Regions from separate parts of the Homo sapiens genome. Here region 2 is linked to region 1. Evidence: fine-mapped expression QTL. Tissue or cell type: T cells. Region 1 holds a variant in brackets; the other region holds the start of a gene. All regions are shown on one strand. Distances are from middle to middle.

Region 1 (5,970 bases):
TCTAATTATGTGAAGAATGTAATTGGTAGTTTGATAGGAACAGCATTAAACATTTGAATTGCTTTGGGAAGTATGACCATTTTAACAATACTGATTTCTCTTATTTATGAACACAGAGTATTTTTCTATTTGTTTTGGTCATCTCTGATTTCTTTGAACAGTGTTTCATCATTCTGGCTCTCGAGATCTTTCCCTTCCCTGGTGAGTTGTATACCTAGCTATTTCATTCTTTTTGTGGCTGTTGTGAAAGAGACTTTTCTTAATTTGGCACTCAGCCTGGATGTTGTTGGTGTATAGAAATGCTACTGATTATTGTACATTGATTTTGTATTCTGAAACTTTACTAAAGTTGTTTATCAGATCTTGGAGCTTTTGGGCAAAGACTGTCAAGTTTTCTAGATACAGAATGACATCATCTGTGAAGAGAGATAGTTTGACTATTGTATTAGTCCATTATCATGCTGCTAATAAAGACTTACCTGAGACTGAGTAATTTACAAAGAAAAGAGGCTTAATTAACTCACAGTTCAGCATGGCTGGGGAGATCTCAGGAAACTTACAGTCATGGCGGAAGGGGAAGCAAACACATCCCTCTTCACAGGGCGGCAGGAAGAGGTATGAGAGCCAAGTGAAGGGGGAAGCCCCATTAAAACCATCAGACCTCAAGAGAAGTCACTCATTAGCACAAGAACAGCATGATCAGCATGGGAGTAACCGCCCCCATCATTAAATTACCTCCCACCAGGTGCCTCCCACAACACATGGGGATTATGGGAACTACAATTCGAGATGAGATTTGGGTGAGGACACAGCCAAACAATATCGATGATCTTTCTTCCTATTTTGATGCCTTTTATTTCTTTCTCTTGCCCAATTGCTCTGGCTAGAACTTCCAGTACTATGTTGAACAGGAGTTGTGACAGTAGGAATCCTTGTCTTGTTCTGGTTATCAAGGAGAATGCTTCCATTCAGTATGATGTTGGCTGTGGGTTTGTCATAGAAGGCTCTAATTTTTTCAAGGTATGTTTGTTCCTTCAATGTCTAGTTTGTTGAGGATTTTTAACATGAAGGGATGTTGAATTTTATCAAAACCCTTTTCTGCATCCATTGAGATGATTATGTAGACTTTGTTTTTAGTTCTCTTATGTAATGAATTACATTTATTGATTTGTGTATGTTGAACCATTCCAGGGATAAAGCCTGGTGTATTAACCATTTGATGTGATGCTGGATTTGGTTTGCCAGTATTTTGTTCAGGATTTTTGCATCTATGTTCATCAAGGGTACTGTCCTGAAGTTTTCCTTTTTGGTTGTGTCTCTGCCAGGTTTTGATGTCAGCATGATGCTGGACTCATAGAATGAGTTAGGGAGGAGTCCTTCTTCTTCAAGTTTTTGGAGCAGTTTGGAGTAGGAATGGTGCCAGGTCTTCTTTATACAGCTGGTGGTTTAATCTTGAAATGGTGAATGTTATCAGGAATTTATCAATTTCTTTTACGATGTCTAGTTTCTGTGCATAGAGGTGTTCATACTAGTCTCTGAGGTTTTTTTGTATTTCTGTGGGGTCAGTGGTAATACCCTCTTTGTCGTTTCTAATTGTGTTTATTCGGATCTTCTCCCTTTTCTTCTTTATTAGTCTAGCTAGCAGCATATCAATCCTATTTATTCCTTCCAAGAACCAACTTGTGGTTTGTCGAGCTTTTGTATGGTTTTTCACAATTCAATTTCATTCAGTTGTGCTCTGATTTTGGTTACTTCTTGTCTTCTGCTAACTTTGGGGTTGGTTTGATCTTGTGTTTCTAGTTCTTGTAGGAGTGATGTTAAGTTGTTAATTTGAGATCTTTCCAACTTTTTGATGTGGGAGTTTCATGCCATACATTTTCCTCTTAACACTGCTTTATCTTTGTTTGAGAGATTCTGGTATGTTGCATCTTTGTTCTCATTCAAAGAATTTGCCTCAATTAAAAGACACTACGTGGCAAGTTGGATCAAGGTGCAAAATCCAAATGTCAAAGAATTTCTTGATTTTCTAGTTAATTTCATTTTTTACTCAAAAGTCATTCAGAAGCAGATTGTTTAATTTTCATGTAATTGTATCATTTTGAGCAATCTTCTTAGTATTGATTTTAATTTTTATTGCACTGTTGACTGAGAGTGTGGTTGGTATGATTTGAGTGTTTTTGATTTTGCTGAGAATTGTTTTATGGCTAATTGTATGGTTGATTTTAGAGTGTTTGTCATGTGCAGAGGAGAAGAATGTATATTCTATTCTTGTTGGGTGGAGTGTTCTGTCATATGTCTGTTAGGTCCAGTTAATCAAGTGTTGAGTGTAAGTTTAGAATATCTTTTTCAGTTTTCCATTTCAATGATAATCTAATAATGTCAGTGGAGTGTTGAAGTCTCCTATTATTATTGTGTGGTTATCTAAGTCTCTTTGCAGGCCTCTTAGAACTTGTTTTATGAACCTAGCTTCTTCTATGTTAGGTGCATACATATTTAAGATAGTTAGATCTTCTTGTTGAATTGAACCCTTTACCATTATGGAATGCCTGTCTTTGTCTTTTTGGATCATTGTTGGTTTCAACTCTATTTTGTCTGAAATTAGAATAGCAACCCCTGCTTTTTTCTGTTTTTCATTTGCTTGGTCAATTTTTCTCTATCCCTTTACTTTAAGATATGGATGTCATTACATGTGTGATGGATCTCTTAAAGACAGCATAGATTTGGGTTTTGCTTCTTGATCCAACTTGCTACTCAGTGTCTTTTAATTGAGGCATTTAGCTCATCTACATTCAAGGTTAATATTGATATTTGCAGATTTGATACTGTCATGTTGTTAGCTGGTTATTATGCAGACTTGATTTTGTAGTTGTTTTGTAGTGTCAATGGTCTATGTACTGAAGTGTGTTTAACACTCCCTTAAGGGTCTCTTGTAAGGCAGGTCTGATAGTAATGAATTTCCTTAGCATTTGCTTGTATGGAAAGTATCTTATTTCTTTTTCACTTATGAAGCTTAATTTGGCTGGATATAAAATTATTGGTTTGAATTAATTTTCTTTAGGAATGATAAATATGGGCCCCCAATCTTTTCCAGTTTCTAGAGTTTCTGTTGAAAGATCAGCTGTTAGCCTAATGGTATTGTTTTTGTAGGTGACCCGCCCCTTCTCTCTAGCTGCCTTTAACATTTTTTCTTCCATTTCAACCTTGGAGAATTTGATGACTATGTGTCTTCGGGATGATCATCATGTCATACAGTCTGGAGTCTTGCCCTGACACTCTCTAAAGCAGCTTTCTTTACCAGCTCAAGTGTCCACTGGGGTCATGAGGTCTCCTGCTGATAGGATTCCAGAGGTGTGTAGTGAGAGTGGGCCACTCCTTGCCTGTTCAACTCACCCCTTTCTTAGGAGTCTCTGGGAGCCAAGAATGAGTCCCAGTACTCCTCAGCCCCCTGCAGGGTTCCCAACTT[C/T]TTCTCCCATTGGCCCAGTGTCTATATCCTCCCCCGCATCCATTCTTAATGCCTTCCCTCCAAAGATCTGCTTGAAGTGTGCCAGTCTTTCTGATATCCCAGTCTCTCAGTGGGAGATGTTTCTCCTGGCTGTTTCTAGTTGACCATCTTGAATCCTGGATGTACAGCTACTGTCTTCTCTATTGTTACATTCCAGGTCTCTTTACTTTGCTCCAGACAGGTGATTAGGTGTGGCTTAGAGACAGCGAAACCGTTTTCCAGCTTCTGAAGGGCCCCAGCATCCCCCTATGTGTCTCTGAGTACCTGCTGATCACAGAGCAATAGAACCTGTGACAGAATCACCTGGGCCTCCTTTAACAGAAGACATGAAGCAGTGAAGACAACTCAACTAAATATTTTCTAATGTAGCATTTTAAATTAAATTTTTTTTTTTTGCTATATGTTTTTGAAGAATTTGTAAGTGTTGCTTTAGGGTATGCCATATAAATATTAACTTATAGAATCCACTTCAAACTTATACTAGCATAATTCAGAAATGCTACTTATAGATAGCTCTATTATCTTTTCCTCATTTTGTGGGATTATTGTTCTATGTATGACATTAATTAATGCTACAAACCCGGTAACATATTGTTATGATTATTATTTTATCATTGGTAATTATTTCTTTAGCCCAGCACAGCTTTACTTTTGCCAACCTCCTTTGTGCTGTTAGTGACAAATATAATACATATATATTACATTTCTATAAGTTAAAGGCCCAAAAATACATTACATACATATTATCGTACACAATTGCTTTTTAAATCAAATGAAGAAAAAAATACAAAACCTATGCATTTACACTGTCTTTTGTAGTTACAAAATTTCCTTTACCAGTGCTCTTTCTTTTTTTGTGTGGATTTGAATTACCAAATGGGATTACTGGTGTTCATCCTGAAGATTTCCTTTACTATTTTCTATAAGGCAGATTTGCTAGCAACAAATTTTTCTAGTTTTTGCTTTTCTAGTTTCCATTTCTATTAATGTTTGAATGATAGTTTGGTTGGCTATAGAATGCCTGGTGGATAGAATTTTTTTCGGAATAATTTCAATGCTTTCCCACTGCCTTATTGATCTCCATAGTTTCTTCTGAGGAGTCAGCTGTTAATACTATTAGAGTTCCCTTCTAAATAATAAGCTGTTTTTCTCTTGTTGCTTTCAGAATTTTCTTCTTGAATTTGACTTTCAGAAGTTTTACTATGATGATGTATTTATTTGTAGATCTCTTTGTGTTTATCCTATTTGAAGTTCATTAAACATCCTGAATGTGTATGCTGTTTTTTGATAACCTTGTGAGGTTTTAAGACATTATTTCTTCACATATGTTTTTCTGCTTCTTCCCCTTTTCTTCTTCTGATACTGACATTACACATATGTTGGTGCACTTAATGATGACCCACATTACTCTGACAGTGTTCATTTTTCTCTATTGTTTTTTCTCTCTGTTCTTTGGCTTGCATATCTATCACTCTATCTTCAAGTTCACTTATTCCTTCTTCTGGCAGTTCAATCAATGTCTCCTCCAGTGGATTTTAAATTTTAATTATTTTGCTTTTCAACTTCAGTGCTTTCATTAGGCTCTTCTTTTTTTTTGTATAAATTTACAGGATGCAAGTATAGTTTCATTACATGGAGGGATTACATAGTAGTGAAGTTAGGGCTTTTAGGGTATCCATCACCTGAATAATGTACATTGTAACATTAAGTAATTTCTTATCCACTCCAAGCCCCCCACTTCTATTTTTCCAAGTTTCCATTGTCTGTTATCCCACACTGTACATCCATGTGTACTCCTTATTTAGCTTTTACTTTCAAATGCGAACATATTGTATTTGTCTTTCTGTATCTCAGTTATTTCACTCAGGAGAATGGCTTCCACTTCTATGCATGCTGCTGCAAAAGACATGAGTTCATTCTTCTTATGGCTGAACAGTATTCGATTGTGCAGATATACCACATTTTTAATCCAAGCATTGACTGATGGACACAGAATGATATCATATCTTTGTTATTGCAAATAGTGCTATGATTAACATGCAAGTTATCTTAAAATATTTCTGTCTTTCTGCTGATATTCTCAGTTTGATATGACATTATCATATCTTGTTTTACTTCTGTAATCATGGTTTCTTCAGTTCTATGAGCATGTTTATAATTGCTACTTTAAAGTCATTCTGATAAATCCAACATCTGATTCTTCTCATTAGCAGTTGCTTTTTTAGTGTACAGATTATAATTTCTTCTTTGTATTCCTCATAATTTTATGTTAAAAACCAGAATATTTTTATTTTTATTTTTAGAGATAGAGATAGGGTCTCACTATATGCTGGGATGACAGGTGTGAGCCACTGTGTTCAGCCAGATCATTTTCACGGGTGTCCAGCCCTTTGAATTCGGGGATTTTTTGCTTATCTATGGTGGTGTAGATCACACAAATTATGCACTGACTTTCCTTTTTCTCATGA
Region 2 (4,000 bases), 93 kb after region 1:
TTTATAAGACCCATTCTAGGTCTCTTTCTGAATCCCCTTCCTCCCATCATCACAAAGAGGTTGACATTTTCCATATCTCTATCCCATTCCCCCACATGACTGGCTTCTCTCCCTTTCCTGGAATGCCTCCTGGATGGAGGATTAACTTATATAATAGATGTTTATAAAATGTTTCTGAAATGTTTAAAATGTATATAAAATGTGAATATTAGAAATTTTTTAAATTTTGATTATCTTGACATATCTCTTAGCCCCACAGGAAGAGGCTAGCAGCTTACTCTGGCCGCTACAGGGTTTTTAGCAGTGAAGCTGCAGTCCCACAGAGTTGTCCAGCTGAGAAACCCCTTTAAGACCAGTCAAGTCAACCTCCTCACTGTACAGATGGGCTAGGAACAATGAGGTCCAGGGAGAGGGAAGGTATTATTTGCAGCTCAGCATAACCTGAGCCTGAGGTCTATAGTATAAGATCCTGTGTACAAATGGAAGGCCTGCTTCCAGGTCTGGAAAAGCTCATAGGCTGGGGAAGGAACAAGACACATGAGTGCTCTCTCTCTCTCTCACACACACACACACACACACACACATGAATGCACACACACATACACACACACAAACAAAGGATTTAAATTTAACATTTCTAAAATGCTCCCTCAAGCCCCAGGCTTAAGCCCTAGCTCAAACCAACAGACTTGGAGAAGGTAGAGAGATACATTATAAAACCTGCTAGAGAATGGAAATGTGGTAGTTATAGAAAGAAAAATGTTTTTTCAGGAGCATTAACTCTGCCACTAATGCTCTTTGGCTTGGGGGCAAATTATTTTTTCTCTTGGTTGACTTAATTCAGAGTCTTTTCTAACTCTGAGGTTCCAGAGTGTGATGGGTCACAGAGCCCCAGGATAGGGTAACCTAATCAGAGTCAGCTACGGAAAGCTGGATTCTTTCTGACCTAACAAGTGACACCAAGCTAACACCTATCCAGCCTTTTTCTCTAGGGATGATAGGGAAGCAGCAAAATCCCCCTTTACCCTATATTGGATCTCACTTAGCTGTTACCCAGGTTGAGTTTCCTGAAAATCCATCTCACTTCTCAGGAGTGTAGATGAGGATAGAGCTTCCCAAGCTCCAAGGAAATAATGCCACTATGGAATAGTCCATCCTCCTTTGGGATTTGTATCCAGCCCATAAATAGCCCAGACAAATTGAGCCATGTCTATAGGGAAGTGAGTTATCCCAGGAATGGGTAAGAAACCAAGTCCTATGAAGACCAGTTGAAAAAGCTGGGGCTGTTCAGCTTGGAGGAGAGAAGAGTCAAGGAGACATAGTACTTGTCCTCAGGGCTTTGAAGGGCTATCACAGGGCAAGGAAGCATCTATGTTCTGTGTAGCCCCAAGAAGCAAAGCTGGGGTTTTTGGATGGAAGTCAGAGGGAACTGGATTTAGTTCAACACAAATAAGAACTTTCTAACAGTTGGAGCTGCTCCTGGATGGACTAGATGGTCTGGGGAGGTAGTGAACAGTGAAATCTCAATCACTACTGGATGTTTCTGAGCACTTATTCATGACAATGAAGGGTGGTATAGGTTACTTCTATAGTCCTATCCAACTCTTAGAAAACACTCCTTCTTCGGGGGCTGTATATTTTAACAGAGACCAAAGCTTGGAAGCAGAGTGGTTAAGTCCAATTGTAGAATTTTAGATGAGAGACAGCAGATGGAGGAAAGATTCGGATGTCATTGGGAACCTTCTTGATGCCCCTGAGATACAAGCCCTAGAAAATAATGCAGATGTTTTCCAAGAGAAAAATCCTTTTTCAATTTCTGCCCAAACTTGCCTTCTGGCTTCTTCAGCAGCCTTCAACTACATCCATCCGTTTTGCTCAAGGCTGAGAGAGCCTGCAGAGTTTGGCTGAGAAGACTCACCTGCCCAGTAGGAATAGGCTTTCCATAGTAGACATTAAACACCAACCCTCTAGCCTTTTGCCTAAGCCAGCAATGGCAGCCAGGCCCCCCTTTCTGCCTTACCATAAGTGTCCACTGTTAGGTGCCCCAGGAGTAGCAGGCCCAGTAAGATCCCCATCACAGCCAGAGCTACTTCTGTCCTTTCTTCCAGCCTCCTGCTACCAAAGAGGCTCAAACTTCTGGTGGCCGCCAGCGTCTGTGACTGCTTACTTCCCTTCCTTCCCTATATCTCTCACTCAAACTCCTAGTCCCATCACACATTCCCCTTCCTTCCCTATTTCAGTACAGGTCATGTGGGGTGCCCCCCTTCCCCCACCTCCTTGGGGTTGGAGGTTCCAGGATGAGTGAAGCAATTCTTCCCCCTGCTAGGGTATTGACTTGACTTTCCTTGGAGCCAATGGGGCTTTCTGGTCTTTGATCTCCTAGGCTGTATTTATTTTGAGTCTCCTCCACAAGATTCAGAGGTTGTGGGGGCGACCTTTGGGATGAGTCTTCCCACTCCAGTATGGCGGTGTTTTCCTTTGTGGTGAGCCCAGGGAGAAGAGATCAACTTTGCTGACCTACCCAATTTTCATTAGTTGTACTGTTAACCCTTGCCTGTGCAGCCTATGCAACTGGACAGGGTGTTGGGCCCGGGGTGCTTTTGGGCTTAAGAGTACAAGAGTTTAGTGTATTAAAGGGCTTTCTACACATCAAAGCTTGAATAATTGACAAGCCAATGGATAAGGCTGTTATGGGTGAATATGCCTCATATCTCATATTGGGGAAGCTCTTTGAATCACTTTCTACAATGGCTCCACCTCTCTGATGGTAAGGGAGAATTCATTTTCATTAATGTTCTCCATGCTTTTTCATAAGGAATTTATTTTTTACTTCTTTTAAGGGAAATTTAAGCCTAGCCTCCAGTGCAGCAGCCCATTAGTGGTATGCTGTATTAGGTTGAATTTTTCATTGACTTCCAATTGGTACAGGCCCTTGACCTACAAGAGAGTAATATTATGCCTCCTAGCAAAGCTCAACTGCTCCAGAAATTGCTCCTCTTCACAGGCCCCAGAGTGACTGTAATTTCATCAGCAGTCTAACTAGGTTTGGCACTGCGCTTTGTCTACTAAGCTTTGAAACAATAAGCACTTTCAAAAGCACAAATACATCCCAAAAATTCATACTGCACTGTAAGTAACAGCTAAGCTTAGTTTACTCTTTGATTGGAGGGATAGGAAAGGACTTGGTCAGGGGAGGGAGGAGTTTGTGCAGAGATGGGGAGTGGGAATATAAAGAAACATACTTGCCAAGGGGTGGCTGCATGCAGATGATTTGGAGCTGTGCACGGGCTAAGGAGACATTCCAGCATTTCAGGACACATTATTACATGGAATTCTATCAATCACCTCTGCCTCTAGGGCCCAATCCCCCTTGGCTGGTTGTTCCTTGTTTTTTGAGTACTGCACTCATTCCATCTCACTGGAAATTTCAGCCATTTTTTCCCACCGGGTCCTCACTCAGGAAACCCTGAACTTCACAGAACCCTCCTTTGATATTTTTCAACCAACACCCTATCACCACTACACCACCACCACCGCACAGACACACACACACACACACACACACACACGCACACACATACACACACACACACCCCTCCCCTTCCCCGCTAAAAAGCCCACTGGACAGATGTAAATTTCTGCCTGGCCAGGTGATTGTGTGTTTTGTGCTACCTCTTGCATTTTATTAGGACCTCCTGGATCTGAAGATAAATAAATGTCCTGGGGAGTATGCACAACATTACTTCAAGGCTGGGAAAGACTTCCAGTCTTGCAGTAGGCTCAGTAGCCCTCTTGATTAGTAAAAGAATTGGATGAGAAGTCAGAAACCTGGAGATAAGCCTGGCTCTGTGTCTACTTCATTCTGAGATCTTGAACAAGTCAAATCTCTCTGAACCTCAGCTTCCCTAATTGTAACATGAACATAATTATACTTGATGCTTGTATCTTTTCAGATTTATAAAAATCAAACTATACTATACATACAATAACAACTATATAA

The links. PIP is the estimated chance that this variant, and not a neighbour inherited with it, causes the effect.
Region 2: VSIG4 starts here. The variant in region 1 is fine-mapped to the expression of VSIG4 in T cells (TOPMed, PIP 0.94).

The regions. Positions count from the first base shown.
Region 1 is chrX:65,943,697-65,949,666 of GRCh38, forward strand. No RefSeq gene overlaps it. Among named protein-coding and RNA genes, the nearest start is that of MIR223HG, 69 kb to the right of the region's middle. The variant C/T (reference allele first, on the strand shown) is at 3,464.
Region 2 is chrX:66,037,924-66,041,923 of GRCh38, forward strand. VSIG4 (V-set and immunoglobulin domain containing 4) reads right to left here and starts at 2,157. Exons shown (of 8, transcript NM_007268.3): 1 at 2,021-2,157. The coding sequence starts at 2,075.